4 separate regions of the Homo sapiens genome follow, and regions 2, 3 and 4 are each linked to region 1. The links come from fine-mapping of genetic effects on gene expression. A gene starts in region 1. Each other region holds a variant in brackets. All regions are shown on one strand. Distances are from middle to middle.

Region 1 (8,032 bases):
GCCATCTCTTTCTTTAACAGAAACAGCATCACTCGGATGAACACTCACTATAGCTGCCTGGTGGTGGGGAGAGCACACAACTTTTCAATCCATATAAACTGGAAGCTCAGGCAAGTCGATTGGCCACCCTGAGTCTCACTTTGTCATCTGTAAAATGGCTTTTAAAAGACCCAACTTCTTGTTCTCGTTCGAGTAAGAGATCATGTAAAGTGCCCAGCCCAGATGTTCATAAGTGGTAGCTCTTATTGTTATCTATAAACACAACCAGGTAACCACATGCTCGAGACAGCACCTTCTCCTTGGTACTTTCTAAACACACCAAGATGTGTGTGCACATGTGTGTGTGTGTTTGTGCATGTATGTATTTGAGTGAGAGAGAGAAAGAGGGAAAAAAAGAAAGAAGGAGAGAGAGAGTGTGAAGCAGCTTGGACATACACCAGCCTATTTACAATTCCTGCTTACGTTCCATCACTTCTATCAAATTAATAAACTAGAGGAGCTGGAAGGAACCTAACCACGGTGCCTGATTTCCCCTCAAGTCCCTAGCTTTCCCCTAAAGGTTGCTTCCTCTGATTCCAGGAGGCCAGGAAGGAGAGCCATATGGCTTGAGACTCTAGACAAGCCCAGCAGCAAACAAACGAGCCCCCCACCATTTGTCTCAGGGCCTCTCTCCTTTCGACCCTCCTGTGGGCGGCCATCCAGATTTCAGTCGGGGTGCTCTGGTCTGCATCTCTGTCTTGACTGTTCCTAATTATTGGAGGGAACGCATGGCTCGCCTGACCTCAGAGTTTAAGAGCTCTGAGTCCTAATATCAAACCAAGCAGCTTCATTTAAAAGGCATCCTCATCTGCATCCATAAAAGTCACTCCTGGAGCCCTTACTTGCCCCAGCTTTGGGAATGCCTGCTGTCGAGGATTTATGACACGCCCTGGATCTAATCTGCCACACTTTAACTGCTGCTGTTGCACATCTGGTCATAAAAGCAAGGGCTGGCCCAACACGGGGACAAACACTTTTCTTTCCTAAATGGCTGCAAATCTGATCTCACAGTGATACCTGGGCTTGGATGTAATCAACCCAGCATCTGGGCAGTCATTAAGACTTGTCAAGCATTGCAAGACTTTTTCTCCACACGACAGCTATAAAGATGATTCTCATATAGTAAAAGCTATGAATAAACAACCTGCAATCTGAACAGGTGGTAAAGGGCCAGGCCCAAGGATGTTCAAGAAAGAAAGCACGAGTTGGTTGAGCCAACCTTGTTTTCACAAAGATCCTAGCTACTTTCACATGGACTCTCAGGCTGCCAGTTAAGAGTCAATTGCCCTGACATAAACTGATGCTTGGCCAGAGATTGCCTGGATTAAGTTTGGTCAAAAGAACCACTAGGTCGTTTAATAGTACATGTTTCAAGGCAGTGAAATTCTTTATTAGACCAATTGGTGGGGGGTGTTGCGGGGATAATCTAGACCAGAAATGAACACAATACTGTCGGTTCCAGGAGATTTTACAATGCCCTGGACAATCTGTCCTGTGCACAGAATTGGCAGGTTTCATGTCGTTCAGAAACTCCAATCAGACCAAGGTTCAACGAGTAATTCAACCTCCCAGCACTGAACCCAGGGGGAGAGACCCCTGAACATTGCGCAACTCTCCCCTCCCACCTCTTTACAGTACCCCACCTCTGACCCTCTTCCAGTGCCTGCCCGGCAGGAGGTGACATTAAAATTATCTGCTGTGGGTTTTACGAGCAGTGATCGCTTTTTAAAACAACAACACAAGGTCCTTGTGTGGCTCGCGGGTAACCTAAAACTCTCCAGGCAGAGCTGCACCCGCCCCCGTCCCAACCCCCGCCGCCTGCCAACAACTCCAGCGCGCTGGACCGGGCGCCAGCGTGAGACCACAGGGAAGCCCTGCATGAGCGGAGAGCGAGCTTCTCTCCGACGCAGGAGGCACCTCTGAGGGTCTTGAGCAAAATGCAGGAGAGAAGAGATTGGGAAAGAAAACCCACCAGTGACAGTTCGGGGACAGGGGAGGGATGGTGGGTCAAGAAAGGGAGAGTGGTGGTGGCTCCAATGGGAGAAAAAAAATATTTCAGCAACTTCACCAAGCCCGCAGGGGACCTGGTAGTAGACAGAGGACAACAGGTCTCTGACATCTCTCTTCCCCCTCCTCCTTCCCTCAGGGATGAGGGGGGAAGCAACCTCCCCTCCCTCCGCAGGTGGGCGCAAAGCTGGGGGCGCACTTACCCTGGGGCCTGTGGTGCGGTGGCCGCGAGCAGGGGACAGCTGCACCAACACCAGCAGCAAGTGGGGCGTGAGCAGGCGGGCGCAGCGCGCGGGCAGCATGGTGCCAGCCAGGCTGGGCAGCCGGCAGCGAGCGGGGTTCGCGGGCTCCGCGGGGCGCACAGCGCGCCTCCCTTCCTTCCTTCGCTCGGGGCCCTCGCGGCGGCGGGGAGCGGGCCGTGGTCCTGCGGCGGGGGCTCGCAGAGGCTGCGGTCAGGGGACACAGTCATGAACCGCGCAGGAGGGGAGCTGGAGCGCGAGCGTGTGCTCTGCGCGCGGCGCTAGCTCCGCTCGGCGGGGCCCAGGCGGCAGCAGGTTGGACGCCTGAGCCCGGGCCATGGGAATTCCCGTTATAAACCCCCGGGAGGGGCGGGGCGGAGCACGGCGGGCCTGATTGACGGGCCAAGAGGCCTGTTGAAGCCGACCCTCTGGCAGGTGAAAGCCAATGGGAGAGGGGCAAGAGGAGCCACTCGTGGTCAACCCCCCGCCGAGGAGCTCCGCGGGAGTAGGCCCCGGGAGAGAGTGGGATAAAGAGTAACTTTCTCCCGGCACTCCTGCCCGAGGAAGCCTGAGAGAGCCCCAGCAGCCGGCACCCACCAGAAGGCTCACCTGGCTAATAATAATGCCTTAAGCATGTATATTTCTTAGCTCAAGCTCGTGATTGTCCCAACATCCTGGTGAAGTAGGCAGGGAAAATACTCCTAGCCCCATTTATCAGATGAGAATGCTGTGACACGAAGGCGCCGAGAGATCTGCCTCCCTGCTGCATCTGGGAAGAGTAACTGGGAAGTCGCTGGATGACCCGCACAGGGTGGGCTGTGGCGTTGGAGTGGGGAATGGGAGCATCCACTTCTTTCAAAGACTCTCCCTGGGAGGTGACATCCTGAGTCTCACAGCGGCTGCCCCGGGAGAAGTCGCAAGGGACAAGGTGAAGCGTGTGCTGGGCATTGGCCGCTGGGGAGGGCCTCTTGGGTACGGTAACCCCCTACACACACACACACACACACACACACACACACACACACACACACACACACACACATCTCCCAGCCCTATGGTCCGTATGATCCAGGATTGGAACTCAGGCATCCTAGCTTCCCCCTCTGAACTGGAGGGCAAGGGGCAGCCTCTCTATAGCCCAGCAGCTCTGGAAGAGGCGGGCAGAGAGGCCCTGGTCCCCTGATGGGAGACAAGGAGGAAAAGTATAGATGAGGAGGCGGCAGTCTGAGGATGCAGAGATCCCAGAGATGGGGTAGAACAAGGAGAGGAGATCTCTCCCGGGTGCCCGACCCTCTTGGAGAGGACAGCTCAGCGGAGCTTCAGTCAGATGTTGGGGGGCTCTGCCCAGGGCCATCCCCGGAAGGCCATCTTGGGAATGGTCACAGCTGCATCACACCGGCTCCTCAACAGAGCAAGGTGCTCAGCTGCCTTCAGTGAGACTGACATCTCCAGGAAATCACAGGGAAGGGGGCGGGGGGGCGCAAAATGAAACCCAGAGCGATCTCCTTATGTGGAGAACAACCTTTAGTGCTTACTTCCATCAGTATGGGCTACTTCGCAGGGAGGGATTCTTTTCTATAATTTGATTGTAAGCATCAGTGCCACACTCCCCCTCCCTATCTGGTCTGAGAGGTCCTAAGATTAGCTCTGCTCCCTCAGGGCTTCTCTCCTGGATTCCATGAAACAGCTTCGCACCTGACTCCTGAATTCAGTTTTGCCCTCTCTCCACACTGGCCCCATCCAACCTCCACACGGCAGCCAGTGTGTCTATTCGCTATTTAGAAGCCAGTGATCCTTTTAAGCAGCAAACCGGAACTCACCATTCCCTGCTTAAACGACTTCCCCTCTCCCCATTGCCCTCTGACAAGAAAGCTCAGACTGGATGCTGGAACAATAACAAAGTACTTGTGGTTCTCCAAACAAAAATGAAGCGCACTTCTAAAAGAATGGTCTATCTTTTCCTCCACTGGGAATGAGTGCTTTGGTCAGACAGACTCTGGAGCTGTACAGCAGGGTTCAAATCCTGAGTCTGCCACCTAGTGGTATAAGCTTGAAGAAGTCACTTGACTCATCCAGGGTCCCGTTTTTCTCTCTGTAAAATGGGGATAAAAATAGTATCCCCTGCCATGAGATGTTGTCAAAAGTAAAGGAGATGGAGTCTTTAAAGCCCTTAAAATAATTAAGTGAAAAGTATCACAATATGGCATTTGAAGAGGACAGGACAAATGCCTCATCTCATTTTATCCTCAGAACAATCTTCTGAAATAGGTCAGACATTCCTACTTTACAGGTAGATAAGTGAATACTCCATGAGATTGTGACTTGCCTGGCCTCATTTGGCTGGCAAATGACAGAGCCGAGACGCCGAGACTCAAGGCAAGGTTTTTGGAGTCTAATTCTGCTTCCATCATGTGATGGCTGCAATCTCCAGTCTCAAATCCCATAGGGTTGGACGTTCCTCTGTGCTAATTGGGAATTTCTTCAGTGGCCTACAAGGTGAACTGAGACTGGTGAGCTCCACTGAGCTTCAGAGGAAAAGGATGTAAACATCAGGGGTCAGCCCTTCCTGGAAACAGCCCTTGTGACCTGGCATCCTGGAGTTTGCCCAGCTGGACTTGTGACACTTGTCCAGTACCGTGCCCTGTGCAGCACTGACATCAATATCCATGTGTCCACCTAAGTGTTCACCCTCCAGGGGCTCAACAGGATGGAACTGTTACCATCGGGCTCAGCAGTGTGACAGGCTTTTCCTGACTCTACCACCTGGCTACATTCACCTATCAAGCTGGTCAACTCCTTCCTGTTGCTGGAACTATTGAGAAATCTGCTGGAGTAAGTAAATATGCTTCAGATGGCCCTGAGTATCTGGCAGCACAAAGTGCCCAGGGAAAAAGCATTGCAATAGCCCTTTCCATCCCTAACATCAAATGCTGCTTTCCAGCCAGAAAGCTTATTTCCAAGTGTTCACTGGTCCAAAAATCTACATTATTCTGGATTTCAATCATGTAGTTTAGTTCAAACTATGAGCAACTGCTTTCCAGTTACTCTGCTCAGCAAGTATTTTCTTTCCCTCTGGTTGGCATATGAGGCCTGTTGTAACCATGGCCATCATTCAGATGATGCATTTTCTTCTCCCAACTCCTCCCAAGCCCAGAGAAGGTTAGGAATTCCAGAGAACCACTAGTCCCAAACAGTATCTCTCTGCCAGGCTTAATCTTCTGATCCAAGCAAAAAAAGTAAAATTGACAAGTTTCTTCTTTCCCTGGAGGCCAGACTCATGGTCCAAAAATAATCTGACTATCTTGGCATCTGGTTTGTCCAGTTTCAGTCATACTCCTTGTCTTGTGGGACTTCTATTTGCAATGGGATATTTCAGTAGATGAAAATTAATACTTTATATCACAGATTGAGGTCTGAAGGCCTCAAATATTTAGTACTAACTAGAAATGCCAGTTTCAAATATATCTGTGTTTCTGGCCAGGCGCGGTGGCTCACCCCTGTAATCCCAGCACTTTGACAGTCCGATGTGGGCAGATCACTTGAGGCCAGGAGTTTGAGACCAGACTGGCCAACATGGCAAAACCTCATCTCCACTAAAAATAGAAAAATTAGCCGGGTGCAGTGGTGTATGCCTGTAATCCCAGCTACTCGGGAGGCTGATGCAGGAGAATTGCTTGGGAGATGGAGGTTGCAGTGAGTCAAGATCATACCACTGCCCTCCAGCCTGGGCAACAGAGCGAGACTCCATCTAGAAAAAAAGAAATATATATATATATATCTGTGTTTCTATATAATCCAGAGGATTCTTTCCTCATCTCATCTTCAGAATAGAATCTTTTCATCCATTTTTAGTAAGCACTTTGATGCACCTCCTTCTACGCCTTGCACAATGTTCATTATTATGATGGATCTTTGGATGCACACCCAGCCCTCTGAGAGGTTACCATCTAATTTAAGACACAGACCAGAGAGATACCTGGGGACCACATTTAAGAGTAAAGCTGGCCAGGCACGGTGGTTCATGCCTGTAATCCCAGCACTTTGGGAGGCCGAGGAGGGCAGATCACAAGGTCAGGAGATGGAGACCATCCTGGCGAACACGGTGAAACCCCATCTCTACTAAAAATACAAAAAATTAGCCAGGTGTGGTGGCGGGCGCCTGTAGTCCCAGCTACTGGGGAGGCTGAGGCAGGAGAATGGCGTGAACCTGGGAGGCGGAGCTGGCAGTGAGCCGAGATTGCGCCACTGCACTCCAGCCTGGGCGACAGAGTGAGACTCCGTCTCAAAAAAAAAAGAGTAAAGCCTGCAGTGTGTTGTAGGAACTCAGAGTGAGATGACCCACTGTAGGCCTAATGGGCAGGAAGGTCTCATGATGGAGGTAGATCCTGAATGAGGCTCTGGAGCAGAGTGCTTCTATAACATAAATATATCCTGATTTATATTTGCTTCATTTGTTACAATAGCTACCAATGGAAAGAGGTACACTGTATCTAAGGTCCAAGACTTTTGTCAAAAACACTAGTGAGCTTAGAAGCTTGAGACATTAAGATTCCTAGGTTCTGCTTTTAGATTTATGACTAACTTGCTGTAACCTTAGCATTAGGCTAAGGTAAGTATTATTAGTCCCAGTGTGCAAATGAAGTTTACCCGCAGACATTTAACCTTACCAAAGTCACTCCTTTAGCTTTAAATACACATGACAAAAATAATTCGAGTGACAAACAATTTAGAAATTTAGCTCTCTCTTTGGTACACAACTCCATTGAAAGTTTCGGGCAGCTTCCTCCAAGCCAGGCTCCTTCTATTATTTCTCTGTCATAATAAGCAGCTCTACCTGGTGGTACAAGATGATTGCTTAAGCCCCAGCCATCATATCTATTTTCCAGCCAACAGGAAGGAAAAAGAGGAAAGAAGAGCATGCTCCTCTTTTTAAGGACACCTCCCAGAAGTCACGTTTCATTTTGTCTCATTGGCTAGAACTTGGTCATATGACCACATTCAGCAAAAAAGGGCTTTAAAAAATGTAATCCTAATTGGAGGTGACCACATGTGTACAGCTAAAAGTCAACGTTTATGTTACTAAGAAAGGATACAATTCTGGGACACAATTAGAAGTAGAGGCCATCCTCATGAGTCGTCCTTGAGTTGCCAAACAAAAGGAGGCCACAGCATTCAAGCTGTGGTTTACCTCTAGTTCTGCAGACCCAGCTCCCTGGTACTCGAAAATATTAATGGCTCTTATGGACTAAATATGTCTCCCTGAAATTCATATGTTGAAAGTCTACCAGCTCCATGTGATGGCCTTGGGAGATGAGTCCTTTGGGAGATAATTATGATTAGATGATGATGATATACAGTCAAAAAAAAAAGGATTAGGTGAGGTCATGAGGGTGAAACCCTCATGAATGAGATTAGTGCCCTTATAAGAGTCACAAGAGAGTTTGCTTTCCCTCTCTGCTCTCTGCCATGTGTAGATACAAAGAGAAGTTGGCCATCTGGCCTCACCAGAACCCAACCATGCCAGCACCCTGATCTTGGACTTCCAGCCTCCAGAACTGTGATAAATACATTTCTATTGTTTGTAAGCCACCCAGTCTATGTTAAGGCAGCCTGAGCTGACTAAGACACTGGCCTTACTGCCAGACACCCAGACTCTTCGTGGCCACAAAAATTTCCTTCTGGTATTTCCCTTAGGCACGTTCAAGTGGGAGGAACTGAGAACATACTGGAATGAAGCTCAAGCCATG
Region 2 (8,032 bases), 790 kb before region 1:
GCCAAATTGGTGAAAGCCTCTCTCTACTAAAAATACAAAAATTAGCTGGGCATGGTAGTGTGTGCCTGTAATCCCAGCTACTCGGGAGGCTGAGGCAGGAGAATTGCTTGAACCTGGGAGGCGGAGGTTGCGGTGAACGGAGACCGTGCCACCACACTCCACCCTGGGCGACAGAGCAAGACTCCATCTTGGAACACAAAACAAAACATTCTCCCCATGTATGGGCGAGGAAAATGAGGGTCAGAAAAGTTAAACAACTGCACCAGGGTCACACAGCTAGCAGATGTTAAAGCTGGTATTCAAACAAAACTCCGTCTATCCACTGTAAAATGTCACATGGTTTGAAATAGTGGAGCGGCGTGCTCTCAAGTTTGCTGGGCCTCAGCAGTGGCCCCTTAACCTGGCTGGTTACCTCATGGCATTCAAAAAACTATCCTGAACACTATTCCTGTGAATCTGATTCAATGGGTCTAAGGTAGAGCCTGAGATTATGTATTTTTAAAAAGCTCTTCCTAGTGATTCTGATATCTTGGAAAGCACAGGGCTGCAGCACGTGGCTTCTCTTCTGACCCAAGTCTCTTAGGAGATCTTCATTTCTCAGAAGCACAGATCTAGTTCAGCCCTGCATTTACCTCCAGTAACATTTGCCACTGAACCCATTATTCCTTCATTCCAGGCTGAATGCTCAACGTTTTCTGAGTACCTACAATGTGCCAGGCATGGTGCTCAACATTCTGGCTGCAAAGATGAATATACCACAGTGCCTGCCTTGAGGGACACCCAGGGCGTGCGGGAGATGAATGTAAACTAGAAACTCTAATTTGTTGTAGCAAAAGCTAGGCTGAGGTAGGCTTGTGTTGCTTTAAGAATTCAGACTAAAGGACCAAGGAAGGCTTTCTAGCAGTGATCCTGAATGAAGGCCTATAGGAGTTAGCAAGGTAGAGAGGACTGAAGGGCTAAGGAATAGCCGATGAGGCAGAGGGAAGGAATAGCGTGGAAAGGCCCAGAGACCCAGCACAATGGCTCAGGGCGGCAAAAGAAGCTGCACAGCAGTGGAATGTAGGATACTTTGGGAAGAGGACCAGGAAGTGAGGCTGGAAAGATCAGTGGAGACAAAATATGAAAGACCGTGTGTGTTGTTAAGGAGTTTGGACTTTATCCTAGAAGTGACGAGGCGCTACTAAAGATTTTATTTTTCCTGAGACAGAGTCTCACTCTGTTGCCCAGGCTGGAGTGGAGTGGCGTGATCTCGGCTCACTGCAACCTCTGATGCCCAGGTTCAAGTGATTCTCCTGCCTCAGCCTCCTGAGTAGCTGGGATTACAGGTGCCTGCCACCGCACCCAGCTGATTTTTTTGTGGGTGTGTATTTTAGAAGAGATGGGGTTTCACCATCTTGGCCAGGCTGGTCTTGAACTCCTGACCTTGTGATCCACCCACCTTGGCCTCCCAAAGTGCTGAAGTTGTGGAGTGACATGGTCAAACTGTGTTTTGGAAGGGTCACTCTGATAGAAATAAGAGAATGAACTGTAGGCAGGAGAAGCTGGCAACAGAGGAACGAATTAATTGCAGAATTAAGAATTTATGTATGTCAAAAAGCACCATAAACAAAATTTGAAAGCAAAGCACTTGGAAAGCATATTTGCAGCATTTCTTGACAAAAATAATATTCTTAATAAAATTACAAATTGATAATAAACATACCAATATCAAATAAATAGAAAATTCACAAAGAAAGAAGTACAAATGGTCAATAAGCATATGAAAATGTTATTCGCGAAGAATCAAAGAAAGTTAAAATAACATTGACATACTATTATCCCAGCTACCAAATTGGGAAAGATTTGATAAGTGATGATACCTAGTGTTAGGGTGCAGGAAACAGGGTACTCTCTAGGATCCAAATAGGAGAGCGTTTTGGTACAAACTTTCTGGAGGGTGGTTGGCAACATGTATCAAAATTCTTAAAAATAGCCAAGCAAGTCTCTTCTTGGAGTTTATCCTAAGGAAATCGTTATAGACATGTGCAAAATTTAGCTACAAGAATGTCAGTTGCAACACTATTTACAATGAAGATTGGGAACAAATGAAATAATCACTATTTGAGGATTGATGATAAAAAAAGGGTCCATCCATACAATGAAGATGCTGTTGAGAAAGTTTGATATGCCGAAAATGTTCGTGATATTATTAAGTGAAGGAACAGAAGGAGCAAAAAACAAAAAGTGTCCAATATGCTGCCATTTGTGTGTGATAAAAGAATATATACATATGTTTGACAATGTGTAAGCATCTCCACTAGGATGCAAAATAAATTAGAGGGAAACTAGATGCTGGCAGACGGGGTAGGGAGAAGATTTACTTCTGACTACAGAGCAGTTTGTACTTTTTGAATTTTGTATCTGTGTAGGATTACATATTCTAAAATATAAATACACACTTGAAAAGTTATTAAAGAGTATATTCAGTGTATCCAGTTTTTGTTTAAAAAAATCCACAACTGTGTGTGCGTGTGTACATTTACACCAAAAAGAACTAAAAGGTATATTCAAAAGAATACACGTTTGTCTTGGGTGGTAAGCTTATGGATTGGATTTTGTCCTTTTTTTCCTAAAACTTCTACAATACACACATGATGCTTTCACAATAATTAAAAAGCGTTAGTTTTTCCCCCAAAGAGTCCATCGCAAAAGTCCAGGCAGGGGATGACAGTGCAGGTCAGATGCCTGATTAGTACTCCAGCTACATAGGTCAGCAGTGACATCCGCAACGTACGGAATTAAATCACAGTTCTTGTTTTGGGGAGGGATGAGGAGAAGGAAGCTGAAGATTTGGTAGGGAGAATGAACCTGGTTTTGTGCTCTAAAGCCTTTGTTGGACAAATGCACAGAAAATTCAGCCCTATCACCCCAAACATCAACCAATACCCCAGGTAGCTTTTTCTCTTTGGGATTATTTAACTTCAGGTCACAGTGAATGGAGTTCCAGTAAGCCTGTATATCTAAGTCACCAAACAAGCAGATGACCTGGACGCTTGTTCTATGAGGTTCTGAGAGGCTGTCTTCATTTCGTTCTGGTTTTTGATCTTTCTACATGGGATGGCTACAATCATATCCTGGATTGTCCAGCCCTGCCCCAGCACACTCATGTAAACAAGACCTCTCTCCTGTCTCTGCATAGGGAATAATTACTCGGAGTCCTTCCTGACGCACAAAGACCAAGGGAAGACCCTGGCAGTTTGAACTCATTCTCCAGGTGACCTCTACCCTTCTCTTCATCCTTCAGATCCTAACAAACCATCTGCCAAATCACAAACGTTCTAAGTTGGAGGCTTGGGAATGGGGGTGGGGGTGGGGGTCGGGGCGTTTGAACACATTCCCGTGTGGGGCCATAGGGTAGTTTTGGGTTAGGGTCATGTAAAGCCAGCTAGGAGGAAGAGGAAAGACAGCATAATATAGTAGGGATTGGGGAGAATGTGGCAGCTGAAATAGCT[T/C]CTTCCTTTTCCTCTTCTCCAGAGAGTGAGCTCTAGGTGAGTAATGGCAGGCCCCTCAATATTTCTAGCACCTTCCTGTAGCCCCCGTTGAAAGCCTTTGGGGAACTATGTGAATATAACTTACGCTGCTCTCTTCTGGGCCCCTCGGCTGTGATTGGATCCTGCCGTGGTGGGGCATCTGCTTACATAATTAACCCATATTTAACTTTGTGTTTCCTTTCGGTCTTAATTGTGACCCTTTCCCAATGCTGGGGATGGGTGATGAATGCTAGGTGAGTTGTTGAGATACATGCTGGCTCCATCAGTAAGTAGAATGAGCAATACACAGACATAACTATTGGACCTCAGCTGCCTTTTTCTGACCTGTCACTGCTCTGACTACTAGGGATTCTGGCCTCTGGTCTTTTGGGGCCCTTGAGTAAATACATAAGGAGGCCATGTACTATCACTGACATCATGAACACTTTTCAGGTTAATACATATTGTCCTGTTCTCAAATGGTTATAATTGCCCAATATTATACTTACAGAGAGGCAACTAAGTATAGCATAGATACTAGCCAGAGCTCTGGAGTCAGGCAGGCCTGGTTCAAATCCTAGCTATGCCACTAAAGGCCATGCAACCTTGGGATAATTAATTTTTCTGGTTTTCAATATTCTTACCCATCAAATGGGAACAGTATCCCAGAGTAACTGCATGAAAGAAATGAGATTATACATGTAAAGATCTGAAGATAATGCATTTAATAAATCCTAACTATTCACATTATTGCATCTGTATATATTTTAATTTTGTACAACATTGTCTTTTTCACTAGTCACACGAAAAATACATGAAAGTGCTCTGATAATTTTAAAGCATCATATAAATTAACGGTGTCATTGGTAATAATCTCATATGCATTTCTTAACCCTTCCATTTCCTTGAAGACTGAGACGACATCCCATGTCCCACAGCATATTGCACAATGATGGGCAAACAATATGCCCTCAGTAAGTGTTTCTTGTTTGACTGAAGCAACATGGCATAGCATAACGAGCACAGACATCAGGAGACTAGGCTGGGATGAAATTAGTTTAAGGCAGGAGAGCCAGTCTGCAGTCATAATTTATTCATTCAACAAGCATTTGTTGAACACATTCTATGTGCTAGATGTTGAGTTCAGATAATTTCATCAAAAGAAGATTGTACAAGTTCTGACAAAGCCAAGCCCCTGGGCAGTCTCCACAATCCCAGCCCACTCTTAAAAGCACAAAGGCTGTAGCCACCATTGTCTGCCACTGGACAAACGGCCAATTGCTTTGGGGAAAGCCCCATCCTGCCTGGCTGTAAGTAGCTCTGATTGAGGGTTGGAGGAAGGAGTAAAAGTGAGGGAGTGGGCTGCTTCCAACAGAACTGACAGGAACTACTACCTGTTAATTTGTTTTTATTTACACTGAATCAGTCCACAGTTCAATCCCCTAGCCTATACGATGCTCTTTCCCCTGGCCATCATCTTTCCCTCCCTGTCACCTACACAGTCAACCTGTCCCAAACCTTGGCCCACTTCATCCTGCCCTTCTGCGGTCACAGCTGCCTGCTGGGTGGGAGTCCGGGGGAATGGTATGTGTGGTCACCAGAGGGCACTGAGTGGGCTTCAGTGGCATGTGAATCCTGGCAGAGTCTCGGATCCCCGATGGGGAGAGGAGAAAGCACAAGCCAAGACAACGAGTGGGGGAAGGAGGCAGGGGCTAAGTGACGGGTGGGGGGTGGGGGTGGGAACTCCAGTGTACACATTGACAGTCTCTATGTTGGCTTCACCAGCGCTTCTCTGTTTGTCTCGTCCCTGGATTTCTAACAGTTGCCTCGAGATGCTCTGGTTCTGGTCTGTCAGGAAAGTGTGGAAGGATCCAGCCCATGGGCTGTGTGCCTGCTGCCTGTGGGATGGTACACTTGCCAGGCTCCGCCTCTGTCAGAAGCACTGGCCAAAGTCAAAGCCACAACAGCATCCCAGCCCATGAGACTCCTCTCCAGCTGTCCCAGCAGAAGTCAGGCCCCTCTCAGTCGCTGACCTGCTAGAGGAGAGGATGTCTCCATTGTCTGGGCGACCTACCAGATTCCAAATTTGCATCTCTCCTTTTCGTACTGGGAGGAGACAAAGAGCTGGGGTGCAACAGGAGGAAAAATGAGGAGCCAGAAGAAGTGGGGAGAAAGGGACAGAATCCAGGACGGGGCTCTCTGCCAGGGGATGCCTGGAAGTCCCCGGTCAGGCGTGGGCGCAGCTCTGGAGCTGCTTCCTGGTTACATGGCTTCTTTTTCTCTCTGGGAGCATCGGCTGAGTTTCATCTCCGTCAGCTGGATATACCGAATCACGTTGGTGTCTGTGAGGAGAGAAATAAACCTTAGGGAACACCAGGTGAGGGCAACTATCACATTTACAAGGAATTAGCAAAGGCTGTGTCTGCAGACATCCAACAGGCCAGGCTCACTCAACCAAGGTCCCTTCTGCCTATCCATGGTGGCTGAGAGGGCAACTAGATGTCGACCCTCTCCTTCACTGTCTCCCCTTAGCAAATGTGGACAGGTTGGCATGACCCAGGGGATGTGAGAGAGAATGGGTGGGAGAGGAGAGAGAATTTCTCTCCCTCTTTCTATGCAGCAGCGTATCCCAGTGGTTTCCCAGCCGGCGCAGTTAGTTTAGTGAGACCCCAGTTGGAGTTTAACATCAGGCAAGTTGCCAACTTCTCTGAGCCTCCTGTACCATCTGCAAGAAACAACCTCTATTTTTTTTTGTTTGTTTGTTTTTTGAGATGGAGCCTTGTCCTGTTCGCCCAGGCTGGAGTGTAGTGGTGCAATCTTGGTTTGCTGCAAACTCCACCTCTCAAGTTCAAGCAATTCTCCTGCCTCAGTAGCTGGGATTACAGACACATCCCACTGCGCCCAGCTAATTCTTGTATTTTTAGTAGAGACGGGGTTTCATCATATTGGCCAGGCTCGTTTCAAACTCCTGACTTTAGGTGATCTGCCCACCTTGGCCTCCCAAAGTGCTGGGATCAGAGGCGTGAGTGAGCCACCGCGCCCAGCCAACAAGCTCCATTTTTGAATGCCAACCTTGTGCCAGGTTTCTAACCTTCATGATCTCATTTAATCCTCAATACAATCCCGCAAGGTATGTATCCTTCTCCTCACTGTGACAAAATGGAATAGGGACCTAGCGAGATTGAGTCAGATGCCAAGGAGACACATAGTAAATGGTGTGTCTGGCTGCAAAGCCTGTCTCTCCTGAGGACTGTAATACCTGCCTCATGAAATTGCTCTGAAGCCCAAAATAGGTAAGTCTAAAAGTGCTTAAAACAATGATCAACAAATATTAGTCTAATGTAATTTTTTTAAGCTTGAAGAGTTTAAAATGACTTTGCTTTATTGTCTTATTTTTGTCGTTATAAGCAGGGTCAGATGACCACCTCACCAAAACTGGGGCATTTCTTCCCAGTTCCTGTTATTAGTGAGGATGGCATGGCAGGGAACAACTGCTAAGTTCCACACACACCATAACATAAGAGTGACAGGGCTGCCTGGAATAGTTACTTCTGGAAGTAGAAATGAATACTATATCATGCTAAAAAATGCCAGGCGTATCCTCCAGAACCGTGCTGGCAGATAGCAGTGCTCCAGAAAATTCTATTGAATGAGTCCAATGGTTAGTCTTCAAGCTGCTTACAGTTGGTGGAACACGATTTATGTACGGAAAATAAATCAACAACAAGGTGTTCTTTAAAAAGATAAAAAAAGTATACATTTGGACATTTGTGACTTGATTCTAAAGTTTTTTAAAGACTTTTGAAAGGAAGATTGAGTTTAAAAAAAAAAAAAAAAGGCTGGGTGTGGTGGCTCATGCCTGTAATCCCAGCACTTTAGGAGGCCGAGGCAGAAGGATTGCTTGAGCCCAGGAGTTCAAGACCAGCCCTGGCAACATAGCAAGACTTCATCTATACAAAAAATAAAAAACATTAGCCAGGCATGGTAGTGCATGCCTGTAGTCCAAGCTACTGGGGACGCTGAGGTGGGAGGATCATTTGAGCCCAAGAGGCGGAAGTCGTAGTGAGCTGAGATCACACCACTGCACTCCAGCCTGGGCGACAGAGCGAGACTCTGTCTGAAAAAAGAAAAATTATTAACCATATAAACAACAAAAATAGCAACATCAAGTCAAAGTTGTTTAAATGTTACTTCCTCAGAGAGGCTCTTTCTGATCACTTGGTCTAAAATAGCTCCCCCCTCTTTACTCTTTTTTATTTTTTTTGAGACAGTCTCGCTCTGTCACCCAGGCTGGAGTGCAGTGGCGCAATCTTGGCTCACTGCAACCTCCGCCTCCTGGGTTCAAGTGATTCTTCTGCCTCAGCCTCCTGAGTAGCTGGGACTACAAGTGCGTGCCACCATGCCCAGATAATTTTTTGTATTTTTAGTAGAGACGGGGTTTCACCATGTTAGCCAGGATGGTCTTGATCTCTTGACCTCCTGATCCACCCACCTCGGCCTCCCAAAGTGCTGGGATTACAGGC
Region 3 (8,032 bases), 110 kb before region 1:
GAATGCAGAGGCACTGAGCACTCCATCCAGGAATAAAAATATTATCCCAGGAGGTAAGGAACATGGGCCAAGCCAAGTCCCTCTCAGCTGCTTCCCTGGGAGAAGATTTAAAGGGGATAAATCAACAAACGAACGCCAAACAAACCACAGAGACCATTCTAGGGGAAACGGCTGAGCCGAGATTGCTCCAGGTGGGAAAGAAAGGAGTGCGTCTCATGTGTGCTTCAATCCCCTTTCTAATGGCTTCTCATGCGCAGAGGCTGAATTCCTCCATCAAGAGAGTGCCAGGGTGCCTCCAGCCTCTCCAGGATTTGGTCACCCAGTGGACAGATGGGAATCCTAAGTGACCTGAGCATACTGTGGAGTGACCTTCAATGAGGGTATTGGGGAGGTCTCCCAAGATGAGACAGTCTCCATCCCTCACCTGACCCCCCAGGGTCCCAGACTTGTCAATGATCCAGGACCTTTGTGGATCACAGAGACATCTACATCTAAACTTTTAGACATGAACATACAAAACTTCCCATAAGTGAGCTGATTGCAAAGGATATTGCACATTTCAATCCTCCTCAGAGCTAAGCTTGTGCTAGGGACATCCATAGCCACAGTGTTAACCCGTGGCATGATTTCTTTTTATTCTTCTGTCACTCTGCCCAGTCTCATGATCCAGGGCTGGATACGCTTAGCTAGGAGCTGCTCAAAGTTTGCTACATATTGCACTAAAATCCCAACCTTATTGTCATACTTTAGAGACTTCACTCTGCCAAACTTCCAGTTCCTCATCAAGGGAATATGGAGTACTCAGTACAGTAAACTTTAGAGTACAGGCCCTGAGCACCTCCAACTTGAACCTCCTGCACCCCGCACTCCTATCCTCTCTCTATGCCTCCAGAGACTTCCAGCCTCTCTTTTGCCACCAGCCACAATTTCTCTTGACCTAGAATTTCTCCTCTCCAAAATGTCCTGCCTCAACTCTCAACGTCCCTACAACCTACACAAACCAGTCCCACTGGCCAATCTCCTTCCTGCAACTTTCCTCACTGTATCCCATCCCTACCTCATTCCCCTCTTGTCCATGCCAGCACCCTGCCTGGAACACTCAGACTCCTCCCCACCACTTTCAAGATCCAGCTCAAGTCCTGGCTCTTCACAAAAGCTTTTCCCAGACCATGGTGATCTCTTTCTTCCATAAATGTCTATGACAATAAGAACGGAGACCCCGTAATTTAAAGCACTCTAAGAGTTGCAGCTGTCTTGAGAGCAAAGGTTTACATCTCCAAACCTCCTTTTCATCCCCCAGAGGGGCTCACACAGTGCCAGGCACAGAGTGGACACTTGCAAGTGCCAATTAATTTACTGAAGGGACACTGCCGGCCTGACTATCTTTCTCAGCTGTGATTCCTGGGTCTTGGCAGCTCCAAGGGTCTGTCCAGGCTGTGTTATTGTTGGACACCAGGAGACAGGCAGGAAGCCTGAGAGAACAGAGGGCCCTTCCAGAAGTGGAGAGTGTACCAATTCCTGGGAGGATCTGCATTTTTTAAAAAGGTTAAAACAACCCAGCTTACACTGGGAAAAATTGAAATTAAAAAAGAAAATAATAATAATAAAACTTAAACAAACATCCAACGTTAAGACTTTTCCCAAACCTGAAAATGAGTGGGAGAATGAACATCAGAAGTAATGCAAGATCTTACCATCTCCATCGAACACCGGCTGGGTCTCCATCGTGGGTGTCGGCTTAGACCCGTCATCTGAATTGAGGGTTAAAAAGAATCGAAAGGAGACTACCATTATTGAGGTAAATACTATCTACTCTCCAGCACTGTTGAATGGTTGGGGTTTGTACAAGGCCCGGCCAAGTCCCAGTGAAGAGAACAAAGAAAAAGAAACAAAAGAAGAAAAGGGCAAGAAGGAAAAGAGAACCATAGAGAGACAAAACAACAAAACAAATCCAGGTGTGTGTTCACCATCCCAAGGCATGGACGAAAGGAGTTAAAGCTTCGTGGCTTTGGGGGACCGTTTCTCACAAATCTGAGGATACCAGTATGACTCTGCTGGCCCTTGTTCCCGCAGGAAAACTGGGAGGCAGTATCTCCCCCTCAGCCCTGAGTTATGGCCAGGCATGTTAGCATAAGGTTGGCAATCCTTATGGCATCAAATTATGGTGTCCCCAGCTCCTTTCCTGCCCTAAAGCTACCAGCTCAGTGGCCCTGATTAAAGAGCTCAAGGAAAACAAGAGACCTGTGTGCCATTCCCTTCCAATCTCCTCACTGTTTCTCCACTTTCACCTAAAACAGATAAGAAGGCAGGAAGAACCATTCTCTCTCCAGCACACGGAACTGAAGAGAATCAGGAATCATTAGAATGCTTCTAACTGTGAAATAGCAAACACCCCAATTCCCAATAAGAGGGAGGGCAAGCAAAATGGGAGAGGACATGGGACTTTGCAGAAATCACCCTAGACTTGCTTTGAAATTTCTAACATAGATGATTGGAGCAGGGAGCTCCCAGTAACAAAGTCCTAATGCTTATCATTCTAATAGTGTTGGCAGTCCTCTCTGCACAGCAAGAACCTCTGCAGGTCAGGAGTTAGTGCAGACTTTATTTACCTTCCAGGACTCTGAGTTCTTTCATCAGGGCCCCAAAAACCTTAGCTTATAGCAGTATTTCTCAACCTTTTTTCCATTATCACTCATCTAAGGAGCATTTTTAGGTAATTTTTTCCTAATCATCTCCCTAATAAAATTTTAATAATGCAAAGAAACAGTATATATATTTGTGCTTCATATGTAAAATGAGTGTTTTTCATCCCCTAAGAAATAATTTTACCCCCTTAGAGAAGGCTTGGAGAGGGTATCTTTGTCCCTCTTAAGGTTATATAGTTTAAGAGATTTCTCTCCACGGGGGGAGGGAAGGAGAGCACTGTTGTCTCAGGCGGTTTGATGATTACACCATCCCTCTCTTCTCAAGACCCCTTAGAGGTCTTTTAGGATGGAACACTATATTCTCTGAGCATTAACTATTTATGCAGATTGCAAGTTCTCAGATAGTCTCTGTGACGCCAGTCAGATCATCAATAATAACAACCCTCTACCATTTGGAGCTCTCAGTACCTTTGGCCGACTTTCGTGCATCTTATTGGGGGAGGGAGAGAGAATACAGAGTCCTGATCTCCTTTTTGCATCAACATCTCACCCTTGGGAGCTTAAGATTCAAGAGCTATGGAGACTCTAACCCTTGTTAGAGGCTGAGGCCAGCAGCTGAGCTGACAGTCGGGTGACACCTGACCCTGATATTATTCTCATGTACTGACACCAAGACCCAACTCTTGCAGAAGCCAAAGTGATCCTGAATTATCTGACAATCATCCCAAGAAATGAGATGTAGCAGGAAGAGAAGAGTATCTATGCTGGATATACTATTTGCCTCAAACTGGAGTCCAAAACAGGCATCTTTTGATGCCAAACTGTGTGAGTTTGATCTGGAAGTCTTTGAGGGAGAATAAACACAGAACAGAGCCACACAATGTCATTTTTTTAATAGCATCACTTCCCCTGACTCTATTAACACCTCTTTCCATTGAATTCAATGAGCCACTGAATTGAGTCTTTTGGCAGCTGCAATGCACATTTGGTTGTGCCTGCCAGATACAGAGTTCACAGTCTAAATAGTCCAGCACAGTGTGCTCAGCCCTTCCACACAGGGTGGCTTCATTTTAGGAGTCTTACAGGCTAACAAAGGGAAAGTGAAAAATCAAACATTCCAGGAGGGATGATAATGAGAACTCAAGTGCATATGGCTTATGTAATATTTTAATATTCAATGTAGGTATGAAAATCCTCCCATATTACAAGAACTGTATCTCTTCTCTGGAGCAAGACAACTGAAAACATTCTGTTTATTTCTCCCATCATCCAGATGAAAATCTTGGACTGCCCATCGGGCCCAGCCATCAGCAAAGAAGGTCTGCACTCAAGGAGGGCAAAAAGGTTTTTTGGGGAAGCTTTGCCCTTTTGCAGGTCAAGGACCTCCACAGATTTCCCAGATGTAGTCAGAGAAGCCCATGAGGCATAAAGCCACTTGCAGGGAAGGAATCTTCCTGCAGGGTAGGGTCACTGAGGGTGAAGAGATACAGCTGCTCTGCCACGGGGAGGTCCTAAATGGAAATCTTTATGAAGTGAGAAAAGACAAGATGCCCTGCTGCCAGGAATCACCTGTGA[C/A]ATCCAGCATGCTCAAAGGCTGGGAAGCCAAGCCAAAGCGAACAGCACCCTCTAACCATCATCTCCGGGCACCTGGGCTCCTGGCTTCTGACCCAGCAAATAAGAGCACCTCTTCTACCAAACACAAGTCCAAGGCCTAGGTCCAAGGTCTACATCAGTTCTGCTTCCAGGCAAGCCCTGGAGCAACACCAGGCCCCACACTGGGCACTGGGGAGAGAACAAGGTTTCTATATGTGCTCCTGCCTCCCAGTCTTAAGGGGAGTCACACTCCAAATCCCCCTTCACATGTAATAAGTTTACTCTGGATAAGTTGAGCCCCTCCTTTTACTTCTCTGGATAGCAATATCCTCTTCTAAAATTGAAGGATACCTGCCTACAAAATCTCGGGACACTTTTTTGTGTAGGTGTAAAACACTTTAAAGGCCCACTAAAGGGCATCTATAATTCCATGAGTGCAAACCATCTTATTCAACTGCTTACTTTTAAAATTGGGTTTACAAAATTAAAATCCTATCAAAGTTTTTAAATTGAAAATAAGGTAAACCTTACAACTCAATAACAAGCAACCTTATTTAAATATGGACAACATATTTTGACAGACATTTCACCAAAGAAGAGATACAGATGGCTAATAAATACATGAAAAGATATCCAACATTGTTAATCATTAGGAAGGTACAAATTAAAACCACAACAAGATACTTCTAAACAGCCACTAGAATGGCTAAAATAAAAAGATAGACAATATTAAGTGTTGGTAAGGATGTGGAGGAAATGGAACCCTTGTTCATTGCTGGTGAGAATGTACAACTGGGCATCCACTTTGGAAAGGAGTTTGACAGTCTCTTTAAAAAGCTAAACATCAACTTTTAACCCCAAAATTCCACTCCTAGAATCCATCTAGGAGAATAAAAACATGCCCACACAAAGACATGTATAGAAATATTCACTGCAGCATTATTCATTAAAGCTTCAAACTGAAAACAATCCAAATGTCTGTCCACTGGTGAATAAATTGTGATATATCCATATGATAGCATACTATTCAGCAATTAAAAGGAATGAATTACTAATACATGTGACAATGTAGATGAAGAATCTCAAAGACATTATGCTAAGTATAAAAATCCAGATGTAAATACCACATGTTGTATGATTCCATCTATATGAAATGTCTAGTAAGGCTACATCTATAGACACAGAAAACAGATCTGGGGGTGCCTAGAGCTACAGGTAGGAGTAGAAAATACCTGTGAATGGGTTCAAGGTTGCTTTTTGGGGTGATGGAGATGTTCTCTGGTGACAATTGTACAACACTATGAATTTATTAAATTCATTGGGTTGTATATTTACAATGAGTGAATTTTACGGTATGTAAACTATACTTCAATAAAGCTGTTAAAACAAAAAGGGAGGTGTGCCCAAGTCATCACAAATAAATCATGAGGCAGCAGCAGCTAGATTATTTGAGTGGTCCTTAATTTGGGGGAAGACTCTTCCACTGTTTTAAAGAAAAATGTATGTGAATCTGTATATGCATGTGATGATGTTTGGTGTATATTCTTCGTGATTCTTTTGGACCTCAGAGAGTATTTCTCTTTAATACTATAATAATCTTCCATATTAAAAGGAAGAGGATAAACACTGAAAAAAAAAAAGCCAATTCAAAGATTATCCTTTTTCTTACAGGGAGGGAGAAAAAAGGCAAATTTGGAAACATGAAAACAAACAACAAATAAGGCAAACTGAAAGAATTCTCAAGGAGGATGTCAAGAGCAACGGTAATAATAGTATTACCACACTTTGCAACACTCAGTTCCTGGCAGGTAGCTTTCCTCATCTATTCTCACCACCAGCCAGGGCGGAGGGAGAAACCAGGCAGATAAAAAGAGAATTGAATAACAATGCAAGTAAGTGATTTGATCAAGGTCCCAGAGGCAGCAAGCAGCTTTGGAAACTGCCTGGTCCCAGAGCCCTGGCATTTGGCCTCCGGAGATTCCCCAACCCCCAGTCACGCCTTGTCCTTGCAGGTGCAGCCCCAGAAAGTTGCAGCCCCCGCATGGGCTCTGTGAGCCTATACAGACAGTGGGTTTGTGTGACAGCACAATTCCTTGCCCTGCGAGAAGGCCTGGCCCACGCACAGACAGCTGGAAGTCACTTCGACCCCCGATGACACCGTTCAAAGCCTCCTCTGTTTGGCTTTTTGATTCCTGATTGACATTCGCTGGCGAGGAGAGATAAATGCCAGGCTGAGGACAATGTTGATCCGCTCAGACTATTCTCAGGGAAAGACTTTTCAGAATAACAAACAAAACAAAACAAAAACCCAAAAACATTGGTGTGCTTAAGGGACTGAATAGAGCCCAAGAGGTCCAGGGACGCAGGGCCAGGCCTTTCAAGGGGCTGGCAAGTCCATTGAGGAGTTAATTGTTTGGGTGTACAATGAGTTTATTCTGGCCACATACAAAGAGCTTTCTCTTCCAGGTCCTTCAAAAGCAAATGTCTCAAAGGAGCCAGAGGAGGAATCTGTATTAATGGCATCTCTTGGGGTCTCTGAGACTGAGAAGCCTTGGAGAATGAGGAAAAAAGAAACCACTTCCCCCATTCTGAGATGTGGAAGGTCTGTCAACAATCCCAAGTCCCCTTCAATTCTTGGGCTCTCCCCAAACCATGTCCATCACTGGTGACCCTCCCTCATATTCTTTCAGGCTGCCATTGTCCATCTTTGAAAAAGACATGGAGATAAACTTCAGCCTGGTAGAAGTGCTCGAAGGTTCTTGCTTTGAAGGGACCACATTTATGCCAGAGCCACCATCCCCCTCCACATGTGATTCTGAGGCTCAATGTGGAAGTGGAGACAACTCATTCTGGGCATCGTAAGGAGACAACAGTGTCTGTTTGCAAAAGTCCCTTAAGAGCCTGCCCTGAATCAGACCCAGAGGAGGATGGAATGCTAGGCCACCTCAACATTTCCTGAGATGCATGCGCCATGACCAGCGAGGCTCAGAAATGGATGGTGAACTGTCCTGATTCTGATCTGTAGGAGCAGAAGTGGTCGGGCATGTCAGGTTCTTTCCAAAGCAGGAGGTCAGTGTTTTATATTCCGTATACCTACCTGCATGTTCCCTCCCAAAAGAAGTGAAAACAAGCTGAAAGCTGCCTTTTTGCAGGCAGTTCTCACATCCTTGAGCTGAAGAAGAGCAAAAACAGAAGGCTGGGGAAAAGGCAAACTGGGGACAGAAGAGGAAGAGGAAGCACCGGCAGCAGAGGAGCCTGGTCAGGGCTGGGTTCACACAGAAGACTCGGCTAATGTTTTTTTAACTTTTTATTTTGAAATGATTATCGATTCACAGGAAGTTGCAAAGATAATACAGAGAGGTCCTGTGTACCCCTCACCCAGTTTCCCCCAATGGTAACGGCTTTATAGTTAGCATAATGATATGGGTAAGCTCTTTAATTATCTGGGTGGCATAATTAGTACAAAATCAAAATCGGGACACTGATATTCATATAATCCATGGACCTTATTCAGATTCTACCAGTTTTAAATGCACTCATTTGTGTGTATCGTTCTCTGCAATTTTATCCACGTGTAGACTCAGGTAACCACCACCACCATCAGCCTAGAACTATTCCATCAGCACAAAGATCTCCCTTGTGCCACTTTTACTGTCACACTTTCCCTCCTCCACCCCATTCCTCACACCTGGCAACCACTAATCTGTTCTCCATCTCTATAATGCTGTCATTTCTAGACTGTTATATAAATGGAATCATGCAATATACAACCTTTTGAAATGGGCTCTTTTCAT
Region 4 (8,032 bases), 34 kb before region 1:
GATGTGCTGATGGATATGATTTGGGATATGAGAGAAAGAGGAGGGTCAAGGATGACTCTGAAGGTTTCGTCGCACCTCTAAAGATGGAGCTGTCATTTATTGAGTTGAGGAATGGGTAAATGGGTTTGGTAAGGTTGGTAGGGAAAATCTGGGCTTTTGGTTTCATGTTGGTTTCAGATGCCTATCAGACGCCCACATAGAGATGTTGAGCAAGAAGGCAGATATGTAGGTATGGCTATATCCAGACTAGAGACATAGATTTGAGATATGTCTGCATAGAGATGCTATTTAAACCATAAAATTAGAAAAGATAAGCAAAGGAATGAGAATAGGGAGTGTTCCTAGGGCTGAGCCCTGAGGAACTATACCATTTATGGGTGAGAGAGATGAGGGGGAGCCAGGAGATAAGACTAAGTGGGAGCATCTAGGCAAGTAGGAAGAGAACCAAGTAATGTCCCAGAAACTGAGGAAAGTGTCCCATGATGGAGGCAGTGATTAACTGTGTCAAGAGCTGCTAAAAACCCAGTACAATGAGGTCTGAACATTGCCTGTATCTGCACATTAGCCAGCTTGGAGGTCATTGGTGACACTGACAAGTTGTTTCAGGGACGTAATGGAGACACAAGCCTGAGAGGTGTAAGTTCAAGAGAAGACAGAGACAAGGGATCAGGGAAAGCATGTATAGACCATTATAGGGAGTTTTGCTGCCAAGGACAGCAGAGAAATGGGATGCTAATAAAAAGGTGACAAGGTAGAAATTATAATAGGTTTGACAACAAGGAAATGATCTAGTGGGAGGTGGTGGATAGTAACACAGAAGACAGGAGACAGTGGCTACAGTAATGTCCTTGAGTAAGTACGAGATACGACCTAGCACAAAAGTGGAGGGGTTTGCCCCGTACAGATGCAACAGCAGTTCATCCACAGTGACAGGAGGTTCAGGGCACAGACATGGGTAGATTCAGAGATACAGTAATGGTAACCTGAAGAAACTATCTTCCATTGCCTGGATTTCTCAGTGAAAGAGGAAGCAAGGCTGAGATTGAAGAAGGAGGACCAATGTGTTGGAAGTTTGAGGACAGAATGTGTAAACTGGCCGGGCGCGGTGGCTCAAGCCTGCAATCCCAGCACTTTGGGAGGCTGAAGCGGGTGGATCACCTGAGGTCAGGAGTTGGAGACCAGCCTGGCCAACATGGTGAAACCCCATCTTTACTAAAAATACAAAAAATTAGCCGGGCGTGGTGGTGGGCGGCTATAATTCCAGCTACCTGGGAGGCTGAAGCAGGAGAATCACTTGAACCCAGGAGGCGGAGGTTGCAGCGAGCCAAGATCATGCAATTGCACTCCAGCCTGGGCAACAGAATGAATGAATGAATGAATGAATGAATGAATGAATAAAATAAATTAGAAAAAAGAATACGTAAACTAGTCTTCCAGCACACCAGAAGCATGAATGGACTAGAGGAAGAGAACAGAACTGTCAGGCAGCACTTGGGATAAGTAAGAACAAATTTCTAGTGAGAACAGTCAGAAAGGTCTCATTAATAAGCATTACAGTTGGAAACCAGGTAAGACTTAGAGAGGGACAGATATCTCTGGTCACTGGGCATCTTCTCGCATGATAATGGCTACTTCACCAGACCTAGGCAGCTTTGTGTTTGTTTGTTTGTTTGTTTGTTTGTTTCCTTCCTACTGGTGTCTCCCACTTCTGATCGTGTGGGTGTTAAGGAGCATTTTGAATGTATCACTAAATAGACGAGGCAAGTAACAAGCAAGTCTGACTACTCTGAAGATGCCTTTTAGTTTTTTCAGGGGTCTGCAAACTACTGTGGGGAAATGGGTGCACAAATCTGGCCCAGCTCCCCATTTTTGTAAATATAAGGCTTTATTTACTTTATAACTTAGCTATGCCCATTCTTTTCTTTTACATATTAACTGTGGCTGCTTTTGCACTATAGTGGCAGAGTTTAGTATTTGCAACAGAGACCCTATACCCCACAAAGCCTAAAATATTTACCATCTGCTCCAGAAAAAGTTTACAGACCCCTAATTTATAGCAGTGGTTCTCAAACTTTAGGAGCATCAGAATCACGCCCAGGGCTTGTTAATGACAGCCTGCTGGGCCCCACGCCTAGACTTACTGATTCAAGGGGTCTTTGCTGGGGATCAAATCTGCACATCTTCAAAGTTCCTTGGTGATAATGATGCTGCTGGTCTAGTGACCATACTTTGAGAACCACTGGTTTAGGAAGCTCATTATACCCACATGATCAGGATCTTATTCATGACTCTGTAGTGAACTTGAGCATTTCCACTCTAACTCTAGGTTCCAATGTATAAACAGACAGAAGACATATACTCTAAAAAGCTTCTCTAAACAGGCAAGGAATGAGCCAAGGAGATAAGGAAACATAAACCTCATGTCATTCCTAGGACTCTTAAAACTCTAGCCAGGGTTTTTCTCAGGGCTGCTGTATTGAGCTAGCTTATTAGCAGCCATGAAAAGAAATTGATTTCCTCTTGCTTCAGAAGAGCATCAGAAGTCCCACACTCAAGAGCAAAATCGGATCAACAAATATTTCCACCACTGTGCCCAGGCTGTTTCATTTAAATCAATTCTACCCCACCAACTGCAGGGCCTTCTCCTGACACTCATGTATTCCAAGTAGGTTGGTCAGATTTACCAAATAAAAATACACAATGACTAGTTACTCTGAATTTTAGAAAAGCAAGGAATATATTGTTTAGTATAAGTGTGTCCCATGTACTGTTTGGAACACACACACACGCACACACACACACACACGCCAATTCATTGTTTATCTGAAATTCGAATTTAACTAGGTGCCCTGTATTTTATCTGGCAGCCCTAATGCTAAGGTTCCCTGAAACATCCAATCATATTTTGCTTATTTTGTCTTCCTAGGAAGCTGGTAAGGAGTACATAATTCACATGTATAAGAGTACATAGAACACTGGATATCAGTGGAAAATGTACCATGTTCCCACCCACAGGAGAAGACACACAGTCTAGCAGAGCGGAAAGAGATAGAGGAATGATTTTGTTACCCAGCAAGACAACCCTACAGATAGAACCACACAATCAAGGTGCCAAAGGCTTTGAAGCCATGCAGAGCTGTTTGCCCCCACACTCACTGGCCTTAAGCTATAATCTGGGTTTTTTCTACCCTTCTTCGTTGTCAAACTGTGCATGATCTGTGTCTCCACATGCCAGCCATTAGCCATCGTTCCTCCCACTTTCTAATTTGAAGCTTCCAGTTTTCAAAGGAACTGAAAGTAATAGGCTTATTCAAATTGTGTTTAAAGTGAAAAATAAACAGGCCTGGATATTTCCTAGTGAAATAAGGGAAAGCCTGACAATTTCTCCTAAGCAGAAAGTAGCCACACAAACTGAAGGTTAAAGACAAACTGCAGCCCGAGGAGGGACGCAACCAGGAGGGTGAAAGAATGCAAGGCTCTTCTACCATGGGGAAAAAAAAACTGAGGGCCTTTTCCTTTTCCCTCTCTCCTGCCTGGAAAGCAAGTGTTATGGCTGGAGCTCCAGCAACCATCTTGTGACCTTGAGAAAGCAAGCCACAACTGAAGGATGATGACACAGAAAGTGGGAACCTGGGTCCCTGGCCACCTATCACCTCTGAATAGTCTACAGCTGGAATTCCTTTATGTGAATGATGTATAATTATGCCTTGGCTGGGTACAGTGACTCATGCCTGTAATCTCAGCACTTTAGGAGGCTGAACAC[G/C]GGAGGACTGCATGAGGCCAGTAGTTAGAGACCGGCTCAGGCAACACAGCAAAACACCGGCTCTACAAAAAAAATTTTTTTAATTAGCCAGGTGTAGTGGTGCATGCCTTTAGTCCCAGCTACCCAGGAGGCTGAGACAGGAGGATTGCTTGAAGCCGGGAGTTCAAGGTTGCAGTGAGCTATGATCATGCAACTACACTCCAGCCTGAGTGACAGAGCAAGACCATGCCTAAAATTTAAAGGAAAAGGAAATTGTGCCTCATCTATGGTTGAGCATCTGTTAACAGCAGTCAAAAATACAATTCAATATACTTGTGCTATTTACTTCTTTCAATCCTGACAATAGTGACTATACACATGACTTCATTTGGAAACAACATCCAAAACATTTAAATAGAAATGCAAATTAAAATCATAATGAGATACCACATACTATTAGAATGCTAAAAATAAATATAAATACATAAAAAATATCAACAATACCAAGTGCTGGCTAGAATGCAGAGCAACTAGACCCCTCATACATGGATGGTGGGGATGCGAAATGGTACAGTCACTCTGGAAAACAGTGTGGCAGTTTCTCATAAAGTTAGCCATACATTTACCATATGACCCAGCAATCCCACTCAAAGTATCTACTCAACAGAAGTGAACACTTATGTTCATACAAAAACCTATACTTTAATGTTTCTAACAGCTTTATTCATAATTGCCAAAAACTGGAAACAACCCAAATGTCCTTCATCTGGTGAATGCATGAACAAACCATGATACATTCACATCATGGAATACTACTCAGCCAATAAAAAGGAACTACCAATATATGCAAGAACATGGATGAATGGCAAATGCATTATAGTACATGAAAGCAGCCAGACTCAAAATACTACATAATTCCACTTATGTAACATCCTTTTAGAAAAGGTGAAACTCTAGAGAAAGAAAACAGACCACTGGTTGTCAGGGGTTAAGGTAGAGGGAGTCAATGAAAAGGAGCAAACAAGAGATTTGGGGTGCGGAGCAAGGATGGAACTGCTCTGTGTCTTGATTGTGGTGGTTACACAACTGTATGCATTGTCAAAATTCATGTAACTGTTCACCAAAAACTGTGTTGCATTTACTGTATATTAATTTTGAAATAAACTTTGAAAGTTTAAATATGTGATCTCTGGGCCACATGGCTCTCCTGGGCCTTCTACCTTGGGCCCAGTCTCAGTATCTGCCCTAACCTATTCCATCTCCAGCCTTTACCCCCAGGCACAGTCTGGATATCCCTCCAAAATCTAACACAGTGGTAGACAGAGAGGATTCTCCATCCAAATCCTGGACACATTTTAACACCAGCCACTAACTGGCACTCCTGAAACACAGAACAATAGCTATATTGTATGCTGCGCCATACAGGCCACTGCATAAACATTAGCAACAAGTTCCATGATGACTCCCTGCTACTGGCCTTTGCAGCTGCCCAACTCCCAGGACTTGAGGATCTGCCCAGGGTAACATGGAGTCTGGATACAGTTCAATGTGTCAGTCTTAAATCTATAGCTTATAACAGTCTCCGTCCTTGGAAACTCCCTGGTAATAACACAGACAACAGACCCGCTCCCACTAAAGTCCCCAGTCTCAGGCTTCCAAACAGCTATCCTTGATGGCCTCCCAGAGGACAGCGTACCCTCAAGTCCTGAATATCCAGGGTTAATCCCTACAAGTCAGGCCATGGAAAATCCGTCTGCTCAGGAGGGATCCTGACCAGAGGTGCATTTGACTTGACACCTCCTCGGCATACACACAGTCTGTCTCTCTTGACCCTATGCAGCTGCTGAGCCCAGTTTATTAAAAATTGAGTATCCAAGGCTTATTGCAATAGAGGCATTTTTGTCAACCAAAAAAAAAAAAATCCTTCAAACATAAATCATTTAAGCCACTCTCCACATTCTCTGGCATGAAATAAACAGAGGCTGTCTTATAGGCAGAAGGTGCCAAAGTGGCTTTGCCAGCTTCATGCCTCCTGCCTGGCCATCGTATACTCTACCCTAGATGTTCAAAATATAATAAAAACCTGTCCAGAAAGGTTTCTTCCCAACCGTTTCTTTCCACCCACCTGTGTGGGTGACCTGAATCTTGCTGTGCTGTGCTATTAAGGCAGCATGGTACATTGGAAAGCACAGGACTTTGCAACTAGACAGACTCAGATTCAAATCCAGACTCTTCCCAGGGGCCTAAGTACTTTTCTTGAATTCTCTGCACCTCGGTTTGCTCAATCGTAAGTGGGAATGAAAATCGGTTCCTTTTGCAGAACCAGTTGACAGAAATAAATGAGAGTCTATGTAAAACACCTAACATAGGACTTGATCCATAAAACATGTTCATCATATTAAATCTTTTTTCCCCTAAGTAATTTCCTCTATCTAGAATTGTTCCACATAAACCTGAAAACATAAGCTAACACAGAAAGCAGAGGCAGATGATCTGTCGCCAGGAGGAAACCATCTGCTCCAGGTTAGGAAACATGGTTCAAAGGAGTGAATGACATGTGAGCAAAGAAAAAGAAATTTGGTCTCCAATCACGTCCTCTTGACTAATAATCAATGGAGTCCTGTCCTGGGGAGTGCTAGACCCAAAAACCTCTGCTGTCTCACTCCCCAGTCCTCATTCTCACCCAGTTAGAATTATCTTTGGCCGAAGAATCAATGATAAACAAATTAAATGGCCAATATCCATGAGAATACAGATTTTTTAAGTGTTTTCATTGCTTCTACCTCCTAGGGTACCTTTGGAAAATACCCTGACATTTTCTGGAAGCTTTTTACACAGCATAACATAAAATCTAAGGTTGTTCTCCAATGGAAAATAGCTCTTTACAAAAACAAGAAACTGAGTATTCATTTAAGATACAGTCACAATTTTGAAAAGCTTTTACATAAATCCTTGCCAGAAATCATCCTTTCCCAATGCTACCCTCTGAGCTTAAAGCTGTTTCCTGGCCATGCCAAACTTTCCACCACCTAGACACTGCAGTGGGAACTTCGGAGGTCAGCATTGGATGTACCTGCCTGTAAACTCAAAGTGAAGTCCATCAGAGGAAATGTATTTGCTTAGAGAAGTCTACCACAAAAAATAAGGAAGAGCTCAGCCAATTCCTGCTATCAGACACAGTGTATTACATGTTCAGATCATAAGGCGATATTTCACACGCTGAAGTAAAATAACAAAGCATATAGAGTGAATATGCACCATGATTCAGGGACACCAAAAACTCACATATTTATGATGATATGCTGCTTGGTGCCATCACCAATAGATAATTTTTCAGCACTTGATAAAGTGCTGAGCCCTAGGAGTATGGAGATTTAAGACAGTCCCTGTCTTCTGAGTTCTTTCGGTATAGTTGGAAATATGGAGTCCCTGACCTGAAGGAGTCCACCCATAGTCTAGTGGAGCAAAGAGATAAATCTACAGTGAACGAGCCAATCCATCACCATAGAGGACTTTAGAAGAGGTGAGTATAAAGTGCTGGGAGGCAGAGAAGAAGAAGAGAGGGACATTTCAAAGAAACAATTGGGAGAATACAGTTCTTCCAAATAGACTTGTCTCACACACACACACCCCCACACCCCAGAACCTAAGATTAAAAGAAAAGAGGCAAGGAAAGAGAAACAAAACTGAAAAACAACTCCCCTACACTGTTTTGAGCCCAGCCTGCCCCAAGTCCTAATTGTACCTAAGGAGGTTACCACAATAAACCAGAATGATCTCCTCATCCAGCCTCCAACACTAATAGGAAGACCTGTCAGAGAGCACTGGAAGGCCAGCACGGCACCCACAGATCCCAAGGCACTGTCAAAAGGCCAGATGAGGAAAGCAAAGAGGATGCTGAGGCCCAGGCCCTCCCAGACCTGGCTAGCAGATTCCCAGGGGTCTACTGTGTTCTTTCCTATTCTTCGTCTAAACACAGGCTGTCCTGCGGCCAGAGTCTGTCCGTGTTCCCACTACCCTCCAGCACAGCAGCCACCAAGAAGATGCAAGACCTCATCCAAGGGTGTGAAACATCAGGAAAGGGCCACCCACAGGCTCACTTACCTGCATACAGGTAACTGTGCAATATTATAGTCAGCTTTCACATTTGAAGTGAGCACACACGCAGATTCAGTGGTTGCTTTGGTTTTACTAATTCTATTTATACACACAAGAAATACATGTTCCTTTTACACAAGGGAAATGAAAGTCTCCATAATACTGCCACCCAGAGAAAACACCCAGATCAAC

Direction of the effects. Alleles are on the strand shown, and positions count from the first base shown. SD is a standard deviation of normalised expression in the study named. Not every link is listed here.
With allele C in place of A in region 3, the expression in atrial appendage of the gene that starts at base 2,611 in region 1 is higher (small effect, 0.20 SD a copy in GTEx).

Evidence for each region. PIP is the estimated chance that this variant, and not a neighbour inherited with it, causes the effect.
Region 2: its variant is the best candidate, but not a certain one, in a credible set for the expression of SMOC1 in atrial appendage (GTEx, PIP 0.65).
Region 3: its variant is the best candidate, but not a certain one, in a credible set for the expression of SMOC1 in atrial appendage (GTEx, PIP 0.83).
Region 4: its variant is the best candidate, but not a certain one, in a credible set for the expression of SMOC1 in tibial artery (GTEx, PIP 0.66).

Annotation. Positions count from the first base shown.
Region 1 is chr14:69,873,995-69,882,026 of GRCh38, reverse strand. SMOC1 (SPARC related modular calcium binding 1) reads right to left here and starts at 2,611. Exons shown (of 12, transcript NM_001034852.3): 1 at 2,250-2,611. The coding sequence starts at 2,348. RefSeq lists a silencer at 2,424-2,513.
Region 2 is chr14:70,668,895-70,676,926 of GRCh38, reverse strand. It overlaps TTC9 (tetratricopeptide repeat domain 9), which reads right to left. Exons shown (of 3, transcript NM_015351.2): 3 at 1,561-5,851. The coding sequence ends at 5,772. Among named protein-coding and RNA genes, the nearest start is that of LINC01269, 26 kb to the left of the region's middle. The variant T/C (reference allele first, on the strand shown) is at 3,492.
Region 3 is chr14:69,986,136-69,994,167 of GRCh38, reverse strand. SMOC1 (SPARC related modular calcium binding 1) reads right to left here. Exons shown (of 12, transcript NM_001034852.3): 6 at 1,695-1,751. Among named protein-coding and RNA genes, the nearest start is that of SNORD169, 12 kb to the right of the region's middle. RefSeq lists an enhancer at 6,307-6,808. The variant C/A (reference allele first, on the strand shown) is at 4,221.
Region 4 is chr14:69,908,230-69,916,261 of GRCh38, reverse strand. All of the region lies in intron 1 of SMOC1 (SPARC related modular calcium binding 1), which reads right to left. Among named protein-coding and RNA genes, the nearest start is that of SMOC1, 33 kb to the right of the region's middle. The variant G/C (reference allele first, on the strand shown) is at 3,764.